3 linked regions of the Homo sapiens genome follow. The protein of the gene in region 2 purifies or fractionates together with the protein of the main gene of each other region. This does not show direct contact. Each region holds a gene or a part of one and is shown on either strand. Other genes may lie near its edges.

Region 1 (3,651 bases), on a different chromosome or scaffold from region 2:
AGAGGGCAGCACGCGCCCTCCGTGTCCCCCATGTCCCTCCGTGTCCCCCATGTCCCTCCGTGTCCCTGTGTCCCGGGGAGCCCTACCTGTACGGGAGAGGGCAGCATGCACCGTCCGTGTCCCCCATGTCCCTCCGTGTCCCCCATGTCCCTCCGTGTCCCTCCGTGTCCCCGTGTCCCGGGGAGCCCTACCTGTACGGGAGAGGGCAGCACGCACCCTCCGTGTCCCCCATGTCCCTCTGTGTCCCTCCGTGTCCCTCCGTGTCCCCCATGTCCCTCCGTGTCCCCCGTGTCCCTCCGTGTCCCTCCGTGTCCCTCCGTGTCCCCCATGTCCCCCATGTCCCCGTGTCCCGGGGAGCCCTACCTGTACGGGAGAGGGCAGCATGCACACTCCGTGTCCCCCGTGTCCCTCCGTGTCCCCCATGTCCCCGTGTCCCGGGGAGCCCTACCTGTACGGGAGAGGGCAGCATGCACACTCCGTGTCCCCCGTGTCCCTCCGTGTCCCCCATGTCCCCGTGTCCCGGGGAGCCCTACCTGTACGGGAGAGGGCAGCATGCACACTCCGTGTCCCCCGTGTCCCTCCGTGTCCCCCGTGTCCCCGTGTCCCGGGGAGCCCTACCTGTACGGGAGAGGGCAGCATGCACACTCCGTGTCCCCCATGTCCCTCCGTGTCCCCGTGTCCCTCCGTGTCCCCGTGTCCCGGGGAGCCCTACCTGTATGGGTCGTGGATGATGCCCCTGTAGATCCACTTCTCCAGAACCTCGAAGTAGGGAGCACTGGCCGCCTTGGTTAGGTACAGGCATAGCTCCTGCGCCTGGCTGTCCCCTGTGTAGCTGAAGCTCCTGTCGTGGAGCAGGCTCAGCGTGGACCCCCCAAGACATTCGCCTTTGTCCACCGAGGTGGCTGTGGGGAGAAAGGAGGGCTCACTGCTGAGAAGGAAGCGCACGCCCAGCCTCTGCCAACAACACTGCTGGGGCCCCTCATGCTTCTCCAACCTTCTTCCTGGGACGGTGCTGCTTCTTTGGGATACGTATTAACTGTAAGGTTGTAGTTGCTGATTTCAGCTGACCAGTAAGAGCTTCCAGGGCTTTCCTCTTGCAAGTTAATAGCACATGGAGCAACATGAGCTTTGGCCACACGCCCCTGCCCTGGGCAGCTGCTCCACGGCCCCTGCAGAGTCTCTCCTCACACTGGGTGCCATGTTCAACACCTGCCACCCACCACTGCCCCATGCCCCCCGGGCGGGCACGCACCGAGGGAGGCCAGGATGTCCATGGTGCGCATGGCTGGCTGGATGTAGAACCAGAGCTTCTGCAGCGAAAGGAGGCCCTGCCTGTGCAGCTGCTCCAGCTGTGACACCAGAATCAGGTGCTCCTTCACCAGGGTGCGCATGGCGGCCGCCAGGGCGTGGTTCACCTGCCCGTACTCGAAGGAAGACTTCTCTTCAATGAACCTGGAAGAAAAGCTGTCAGACTTCCTCAAAAAGGCAAGCTGCAGGCACATACAATGTCCGATATTCTGAGTCTCATCCCAAACAGGAAGCAAATGACTCACTTGAACCCCACATCCCAGAGGGGAACTTTTGCCCCAGGAGGAGATGAGTCAGGACCCTGGATGGTGACTCACAGACCCTCCAAAACTGAGTTGGGCACGGAGTTGTCACCAAGGCGGGCGCTCTCTTTAGAAGCGATGCAGACGTCCCCATGGTCATCAGGATGGGACCTAACCCCTCCCCCACAACAGCGCAGGCTCCCAGGGACCGCGCCCGGTGCCCACCTGGTCACAGCGGAGTAGCTGGCGGCCACTGGGAGGATCCTGTGCACCAGCTCCCTGATGGACAGGTCCAGGTTGGGGTCCACGAGGAAGGTCCGGCTCTGCCTCCCAGCCAGGGGCTGAGCACTGACGTACCTCCCGTCCACGCCCACCAGCACGTACAGCAGGTCCTCCACCACGGCCGACTCCTGCGAGGCCAGGGGCAACGTGCCTGCGGGCACAGACAGCGCTGTGGCTCTGCAGCCCCCACTCCCATGCCCCCACAGCCACGTGCCCTCATCTGCGGGTCAGTCTCACTCTTGCTCATCTTTGTTTATGGGTATAAAAGGTCAGCCACTGCACTTGGCTTTGACTGACCCCACTGGGGAGCCACAGGCTGAGTTCCAACCGCCGCAGGACGGGGCCGGCCTGGGAGGCGTGGTGGCTGGTGTCAAGATCTCACCACACTCGGCTCCGCAATGCTCAGATACATGGCTGACATTTGAAAAGGTGAAGTTAGGAGTTGAAAAGGCGACTCCAGCAGAAGCTGCACTTTCAACATTGGTAAGTACAACTTGGTAAGTCTGAGTTACTCTGGGACAAAAAACCTTGTCTTTAAAAAGCTATCACTTAAACGTTAAGAAACTCTTGATAATTTCTATCCAGAGAGGATGAGACGGCTGCAGGACACACAGCTAAGCTTCCTCACGAGGACGGCCACGGGCCGCCACCCACCAAACCCCTCAGGTCCCAGGACCAAGTTCTCAGTCCACAGCCTCAGGCGGGCCATGCCTGGGGGGCCGGGAGGAGCACCAGACGAAAGCAGGATGTTGAAACTGTCCCCACGAGGGCCTGACAGGGCCCCGTGCCAGCCAGACCATACCCAAACCAGGCCCTGGCAGCTCAGGAAGGCTCCGTACAACAGGCTTTCGGTTTACAAAATCACTCTGTCAGCCTCACACATCTGCTGGGAAGTGTCCTGTGACTGCAGGCCTCAAGACTACAATCCGTCACCAACGCAAGCCCTTCAGCGAAAGCCTCAATCCTGATGCAGATCCACACTGTCCTTGTTTTTTTTTTTTCCTTTTTTTATTTTTGAGACAAATCTCACTCTGTCACCCAGTCTGGAGGGCAGTGGTGCAATCTCAGCTCACTGCAGCCTTGAGCACCCAGGCTCAAGCGATCCTGTATCCTTAGTCTCCCTCGGAGCTGGGACCACTGGCACGTGCCACCATTCCTGGCTAATTTTTAAATTTTTTGTAAAGGTGGGGTCTTGCCGTGTTGCCCAGGCTGGCAGATCTACACTTTTCAACTTCAAATTCCATTTCTTTCTATTACTCCAGTGGCCTTCTCAGGATGACCAATAAAACCGAGACCCCAATGTCTACCATCCCTAAAGGAGTGGGTGTGGCTTGGCGTTTTGGGAACAGCGAGTGCATCTTCCAGGAACTGCCTCTGACTCTGCATCACTTACTTTCCACCATGTTGGCCTCATTCATCCACAGCCACGAAGCCTCGGCCAATGCCCTTGTGGGGAGAAGCCTCACGGTGGGGTGGAGGTGCCGTGGGGTGGGGGTTAGTGTGGATCCAGCCGCCTGGCTGTGGAGGGACCTCAAGGGTTGCTTTAGGCCGGGTATGGTGGCTCACACCTGTAATCCCATCACTTTAGGAGGCCAAGGTGGACAGATCGCTTGACTCCAGGAGTTCAAGACCAGCCTGGGCAACACGGCGAATCCCCGTCTCTACTGAAAATACAGAAATTAGCTGCGTGTGATGGTGCACACCTGCAGTCCCAGCTACTCGGGAGGCTGAGGTGGGAGAATCACCTGAGCTTGGGAGGTCGAGGCTGCAGTGAGCTGAGATTGTGCCACTGCACTCCAGCCTAGGCAACGAAGTGAGA
Region 2 (3,651 bases):
GTCAGGCCACATCAGTGACTCCATCCCTGGACTTAAGAAGATCTACTTGCAGGTGAGTGTGACCACTTGTCCACTGTGGGGAGAAACAGCCTGCCACAAATGCAAGGTTATCCACAGCCTTTGGGATAGAATGGTAGCTTGTTGTGTCGCATGGGAAAGTCAATCAAATTCTCTGAGCCTCCATTTCACCTGCTTTTAAACAAAGAAAATCATCCTTGTTCTGCCTCTTTTACCAAGATTGAGTGAGGATTCTGTGAGAGCAGTGTATATGGAACCTATTAGAACACGTGTAAAGGAAGATTTTATTAATAATGGCTCTCCATGCTCCAAGACTATTTTCTGTGTGAACTAGGCTCTGGTCTGGTCTGAATACAGGCCACTGTTCAGGCTGTCAGTCTTTATCTACCTGGCAGCAGTATTGCCTTTCTTACCTGACTTATGATCCTGCAGGTGGGTTTATGAAGTGGTACCCAAGTGCAGAGCCCTGTGAAGGGGCAAAGATAGCCCCCAAAATCAAGTAGTCACAAGTAATCCATCAGGAAGGTGATTGAGTTCTGACTCATTTATCTCCTGGGAAAGCCCTAAAAGCACATGCAAGGGGCCCTAGCTACACTTACAGTGGTGATTTCTCTGTCTCTGATAGCCCCAAGTGCCCTCCTAAGTACCCTCAAATATCTTGGATGGAAATATGATTAACTTTTCCTTAACTTTTTTGGTGTTAGATTACAAGAGTTGGTAAATCTGCTTTGTCAGAGGCAGGGTTGCTTTTAAGGTCCATCCAATCCAACCTCATTACAGTGGTGGAGAAACAGAGGGAAAGGCTCACACAGACAGTAGTAGCAGAGCTGAACTCCTATGCAACACACTTCTCATATTCTACCTTGCCCTAAGTGATGGCAGAGCCAAGTCTCAGAGATGATAAGTGACTTGACCAAGGTCAAACCAAGAGATAATCTTGTGATTGAGATAAACCAATTGAGATTTTGAATTCCTGTGCAAATATCAGCAAGTGCTTTATCTGGGTGGCTATTTGCATAGGAATATGTGTGGCTTTCCCAGCCTCACCCACATGACACCCCTGTGAGTCTTCCCTGCCAGTATTAGCAGCTCCAAGATGCCAAAGAGTTCTGGAAATCAGGGTAATCTGGCATTGGGCCAGGGCTTTATCTTGAGAAGAGGCAGCAGCCCCTGCCTAGTCGTATAACTCATGTGATTCTTACTACAGTCCCTAGGAGAAAGGTAGAGTCTGAGCAGCTTTTGCTTTCTGTTATACAGTGGGAGTCCAAGGGACAGGGAGGCATTAGCCAGTTAGAGGCCAAGATAGGCTTAGGACCCAGTGCCTCTGCTGACCACCCACCCACTGCTCCTGCCCCTTTTCCTTACTCTTACTTCACCGAGTTTTACTTAGAATAATATAAAATAATCTTAGAACATTATAGCTGAAACATATCTTCATCAACTAGTAGTTGAACTTCCTCATTTTACAAATTGAGTGTCTTGGGCCAAGAGCACAAGACAATGGATGAACTTCTTTCTCTTGAGTTTGTTAAGATACTCCATCACAGGAATTTGCCCCCCTTTCTCCCTGCATGTAATGCAGGAGTACAGGCCTAGGGGAGGAAACGAGTGTACACACCTTCAGGTTCTGAAGAGCTATCCACTAGACTCTGTGGCTCTTAATGTTGGTAAAGACAAGCACATATCTCTGGCTTCAAGCCCCTGGACAGTCTGCTGGAAAGGAAATAGCGACAGGCTGCAGGACAGCCTCACTTTGTGCCAATTCTTGAGGCCTGTTTCTCACGTCCAAGAGGGATTTTAAATTTCTGAATCTTGAGGCCTGTTTCTCACGTCCAAGAGAGATTTTAAATTTCTGAACCTTGGCAAAGCCTCATGGAGGATGTTTAACAGACAGCTAGATACAATAGGTAATACTTAGACCTGATTAAAATCAGTTAATAGGGTCCTTTGTGTTATATAATGGTATTAACTTTTAATTTCCATAATGGGCTTTGTTGATAGGTGTGTCTGGTTTTATCCCATAGTTGTGTGTGAATCTCTTAGAGGAGAAGCTCAGGTACCGGGGTTCTTATTCCTAGCTTCTGCCTAGCTACCTCAAAACTGCCTGGGCAAAGTTCAAAGTCTCCCAACAAAAAGATGTCCTCAGATGGCATTATCCTCTCCAAAAATCAACTGATCAACCTAAAAAACTCACTGCCAGCAACAACATAGAAAATCTTTAGGGCACCAAATAACCTTGACCCCCACTCCTTCCATGTGTTCTTGGCTAAGTTGGCTTGCTTGTGTGAACTACTGGAAAATCCTTGGGCCTATTAAGGCCTTGATAGAGAGATCAGATCTTAGCCCTGACCCTGGGATGACCTGGCTCTGACCTGGCTCTACTGGCTGCAGGGGGTTGGCAGCAGCGGGATGGGGGCAGGGTTCCTTTCTCTGCCTGAAGCCCAGGTCTTCAGTCTAGCTGGCCAACACAGGTTGCAAATGAAGACCAGCTGTGTTTGCAGCAGCCCTTTTCTCTGTGGAGAAGGAAAAAAAAAACAACCTCTGGAAAGGCAGTTTCTTCATTTTGGAGTCATTTTGCTTAGCCCAGAGAAAGCCCAGTGGCTAGTCAGTGTTCCTGGGTTGGCTTCATTCTCCCTAGACATACACCTTCCCAGTGGCTTGGTTCCCCTGGAAGGCTCCTCTGTTGCCTTCTCAGGGTGTCCAGCCAAGCCCAGAGGCCCCCAGAGCCATGTGTCTGAGATGTCTGAGATAGGCAGTGCAGTCCATGTCCTAAAGCATAGGAACCTGGGTGAATGTCCCAATGGTTTCCTTTATGCCAAGGTATTTTATAAAATCAGCCCCCACAAAAATGGGCTCTGGCTCCTTCCCCATTTCAAGAAGCTGTGCCTTCCACTTACAACCCCATCTGATCATCATGCAAGCCATCCTCATGTCCTCCCTTCCCTCTTTCCATATTTTACTTGGATCTGAGAACACCGGTATGGCCTGATCCCAGACCCTGATCCCTGGGGAAGCCAAATACAGGCTCAGAAAGCAGAAACAACAATTCCTTTTATCTTAGGGTCTAGTGCAAGACAAACTTCTTGAGGCCAGGGGCCAAGTATCCCCCAACTTTCTTTTTTTAATCCCAACAGAATCACAGTTAAGTAGGGGCTTTCTTGGACTTTGAATCCCTCAGTGCAAGACTTTGAAAGGGCCTAACCATTCAGCCCAACTGCTCTCTCTGTTGACACCTTCCCCCTCCCACCACCCCATTTTATAGATGGTAGAAATGAAGACTTGAGAAAGGAGATGTGATGCTATGTGGTCTTGGCTGGCCAGCACAACCTGACCTCAGGCCCTTGTTTCTCCAGGTCCTTTCCTTCCTGCTCCTGGGCCTGATGTCCATGATGATTCCCCTGTGCCGGGACTTCGGGGGCCTTATCGTCGTCTGTCTTTTCCTGGGCCTTTGCGATGGCTTCTTCATCACCATCATGGCCCCCATTGCATTTGAGCTGGTGGGCCCAATGCAGGCCTCACAGGCCATTGGCTACCTCCTGGGCATGATGGCCCTGCCAATGATTGCTGGGCCCCCCATTGCAGGTGAGGCTGATATTCCAGGGAGGGCATGAATCAGGGAGTCCTTTTTTCCCT
Region 3 (3,651 bases), on a different chromosome or scaffold from region 2:
GGTCTTTTTTTCTTTTCTTTTCTTTTTTTTTTTTTTTGAGATGGGAGTCTCACTGCAACCTGTGCCTCCTGGGTTCAAGCGATTCTCCAGCCTCCCGAGTAGCTGGGATTATAGGTGTGCGTCATCACACCCGGCTACTTTTTGTATTTTTAGTAGAGAAGGAGTTTCACCATTTGGCCAAGGCTAATCTTGAACTTCTGACCTCAGGTGATCTGCCTGCCTCAGCCTCCCAAAGTGTTGTGATTACAGGCATGAGCCACTGCACCCAGCCTGGAAAGGCCTTTTCTAAAAAGGAACAAGGGCACTGGCCTTGGACTGACTTTTCCCAGATGTAATCTAAATGAAACTACGAATCACTTCTGAATTTTGACTCTCCAAAACTGAAGGAGAAGCAAGAGATTAATATATTAAATAGATTCTTTGCTACACTAACATAGAAAGTATTAAATTAGGACATCTTATGGACTCATGTTAATGTAAAAACATAAGTGCACTAACTAAATATAACAAACATAAAACTTTAGACTCCATGCCACACAGTCTATTAGTAGATGTTGCTTGTGTGAAGCATAAAATTACCACCTGTTTAGTTCTTTTAGGCAACAGATGCAATCAAATAATAATCTAAGCACATAGTTAATATTTTCAATTATCACATAAATCATCTCAATAATGTCTCCATCACTATAAACACTGCATGTTTTTTCTTATCCTGCACTATTTAAGTTCCCAATAGAAGTACCATGACAGTAGACTTAATTTTTTCATACCAAGATACCCAGCAACACTTTTCAAAAGATCAAATTCCTTCATGTTCCTGCACAAATTTAAATTAATTTTTATATTGTTAATACACTTCAAAAATATATTTCCATAACATTTTTGTTGAGCACAGTAGAAAGTACCATTTTAAAATACATTTTTCCTAAAAAGAAAAAAAAAAAACCAATAAAACAAAGTCACGAATAAAAGCCCTGGATTTATAAATGTGCCCTTTGAGCACATCTACGCAGCATTCTCACTTCTGCTGCTCACTCAACTAGCATTCTCCCCTCTGCTGAGGCTTTGAAGAATTTAACACAGTAATTGCTTTAAAACAATGGCTTTCATCAGATGTGTCCAAACCGACTGGCAACACTGGTAATGTTTTGAGGATGATGGTGGCCCCCATCCCTAGTGGAGCTTTCTAAAGGAATATGCACAGGCAGCTGGAAAACGTTCCTCATCTGACCTCCCCCGAAAAGATCCTGGCCTCTCTCCTTTCCTGCTACTCCCTCTACAACACAGCTTTAGATAATCTATACCTTGAGAAACAAAAGGAAAGAAGATGTGGAAAGCAGAAATACTTCAGGGGAGCTGATGCAGTCTGGACTTTCACACAGGGCTGTCCTTAACTTCTGCCCCTTCCTGCAACTTCACTTCCTTCACCTTCCATGGGGTCTTATAGTAAGGGGCTTAGCGCTCTAGAAAGGCACTGGGAGTCTTGTCGGGGAGCATCAGGAGATGAGAACAGAAGAGAAAGGAGGTAAACTATGCTAAAACTTGCCTCCTAGCTGCCCTGAAAAGAATGAAGGACACTGTTTCTAAGACATGGGGCCCCTGCTCACAAGTCAGAACCTTGGTATCACCTCACAGTTCAGCTATTTTGCCACAGCCATAACGCCATCACCAAGAACAGCTCTGCTGCTGTAACAAACACTTTCAGAAACTAAAGTGAACCATTTTTAAGTTGGGATTTGTCAGAGTTAGCATTTCATTCACTGATTTCTGGGAAGCGACGAGTAAGTAATAAGATGAATAAAGATAATGACCCCGGACTGACATTTAAATTAAACTTTCCTTCATGATTAAAGTCCTAATTTAAAAACAAAATGAAATTTCTATTCCATTTAGACAAAAAAATACTCCTCAGTGAAGGAAGGTCCTATAAACAAATTAATCTAAATGAGATTGTTTAATAGTTAATTCTAGATTAATTTATTCTCATATTACTCTAGACCGGTTTAAATTGTATTTCAGAATCTGCAGTCTTCATGAAGAAAAAATTTAATTCAGTCTCAGATAGGATAGATTCATCAGTCATTTCTATTTTGATTCCTTGACATATTAAATGGATCTTGGGTGTTTTCTGTTACTGGGAAGCTTTGGACAAATTTCAATTAAGATATCTGCAGACTTACAATCTCCTAGAGATGTTTATCTTAAATATTATTGAGACAGAATTTTATTAATGAAAAAAATTGTTTACTAAAAGTAAACTGAGATAAAGTAAAAAAACAAAAGGAAATCCCAATAGGATTTTAGCTTTCTGAGGTTCAACTATTTGTGCTTCAGGTCATATGTGAAACGATAACAAGGTAAATATTCTAATAATGACACTATTTGTCAAGAACCTGTCAGTTTTCATGGGTGAGTGTTTATGCATCTTTGTCATTTATCCTAATATTCTTATTTTTCCTTGAGAGAGATATTATAATCCAACCAAGTAACAGATGAAGGAAACTGTTCCCTTTCATGTTGCTGAGCCAGGGTTCAACCAATAAAAGCACAGTGCATGATAAATTTGGGCATTACACTTTCAAAAAACAGCAGATCTTTTAATATCTAATTCAGTGTGCCTACTGTCTAGTAAATGTTAATATTCTATTGTGTGGCCTGGTGTGTCTACAGCTTATACCAAAAAATTAACAAGCTATCCCCCAAATTACTTTCCAGTTCCAAATGTGGATTCAAAGTATAGTTAAACACACAGCAATAGTTTTTAAAGACATACCTACGTCCTCGTACTAGTAGTCTGGAGGCTTTTCCTAGTAATTCAACTGCCTGTCGTAAGCGTTCTTCATTCTGAAGGAATCAAAGAAAAACAAGTGTTGGCTGCTTTAATGTTGAAATGTTTTTATCCCCTAATATTTATTTTGTAAAGAAGTAATGGCACTGGATCAAGGGGGGAACACGAAAGCTGCTAGTTCATTTCACTACTCTCTAACAGAAAAGAAATAGCGTGCAACTGTGAGCAGGGAAAAGTTTTAAAAGTAGCCACTGCACTTCTCTATTTTCCTATATATTATTAATCTAAACATTCTAAGTAATTAAAGAAAAAAATAAGATTCAAACTTACTTCAAACACATTAGCTGTCTGTTGATATAACTGTACAGCCTTCTCTGGATCAACATTTTCTATAAGCCTGAATCAGACAAGAAAACATGTCTTATATGAGAAATGGAAAACTTGTTTTTCAGGGACCTCTTTAAAACAAAAAGACAAGACTTCTATGCAGAGACTTGTCCATCTCACACTCACTTTCCAGCTCGCTCCAAAGCCATGGCTGCTGTGTCTGGGGTGCCGTTTTCTAGATACATCATGCTGGCCTTCTCAATTAGCTGAACGGCCTCTGGTAGTTTCTGCATCTCCTTTGGGCAAAGGATACAGTAGACAGGTCAGCAAATGCATCAATTAAAGAAAAACAGAGTTAACAATCTGAAATGCAATTATTTTTTATTTTAAGTTCTGGGACACATGTGCAGAATGTGCAGGTTTGTTACATAGGTATACATGTCCCATGGTGGTTTGCTATACCTATCAACCCATCATCTAGGTTTTAAGCCCCGCATGCATTAGGTATTTGTCCTAGTGCTCTCCCTCCCCTTATT

Evidence for each region.
Region 1: the proteins of SLC16A2 (region 2) and TUBGCP2 purify together in Homo sapiens (affinity purification with mass spectrometry; one large-scale study listed by BioGRID and IntAct). This does not show direct contact.
Region 3: the proteins of SLC16A2 (region 2) and NAPG purify together in Homo sapiens (affinity purification with mass spectrometry; one large-scale study listed by BioGRID and IntAct). This does not show direct contact.

What each region holds. Positions count from the first base shown.
Region 1 is NC_000010.11:133,291,787-133,295,437, forward strand, and holds part of TUBGCP2 (gamma-tubulin complex component 2), read right to left. Parts: intron 1,984-3,651; coding exon 1,776-1,983; intron 1,453-1,775; coding exon 1,253-1,452; intron 903-1,252; coding exon 713-902; intron 262-712; exon of another isoform or gene 1-261. UniProt on the Homo sapiens protein: Component of the gamma-tubulin ring complex (gTuRC) which mediates microtubule nucleation.
Region 2 is NC_000023.11:74,525,842-74,529,492, forward strand, and holds part of SLC16A2 (monocarboxylate transporter 8), read left to right. Parts: coding exon 1-52; intron 53-3,371; coding exon 3,372-3,600; intron 3,601-3,651. UniProt on the Homo sapiens protein: Specific thyroid hormone transmembrane transporter, that mediates both uptake and efflux of thyroid hormones across the cell membrane independently of pH or a Na(+) gradient.
Region 3 is NC_000018.10:10,539,522-10,543,172, reverse strand, and holds part of NAPG (gamma-soluble NSF attachment protein), read right to left. Parts: intron 3,412-3,651; coding exon 3,302-3,411; intron 3,186-3,301; coding exon 3,119-3,185; intron 2,845-3,118; coding exon 2,774-2,844; intron 1-2,773. UniProt on the Homo sapiens protein: Required for vesicular transport between the endoplasmic reticulum and the Golgi apparatus.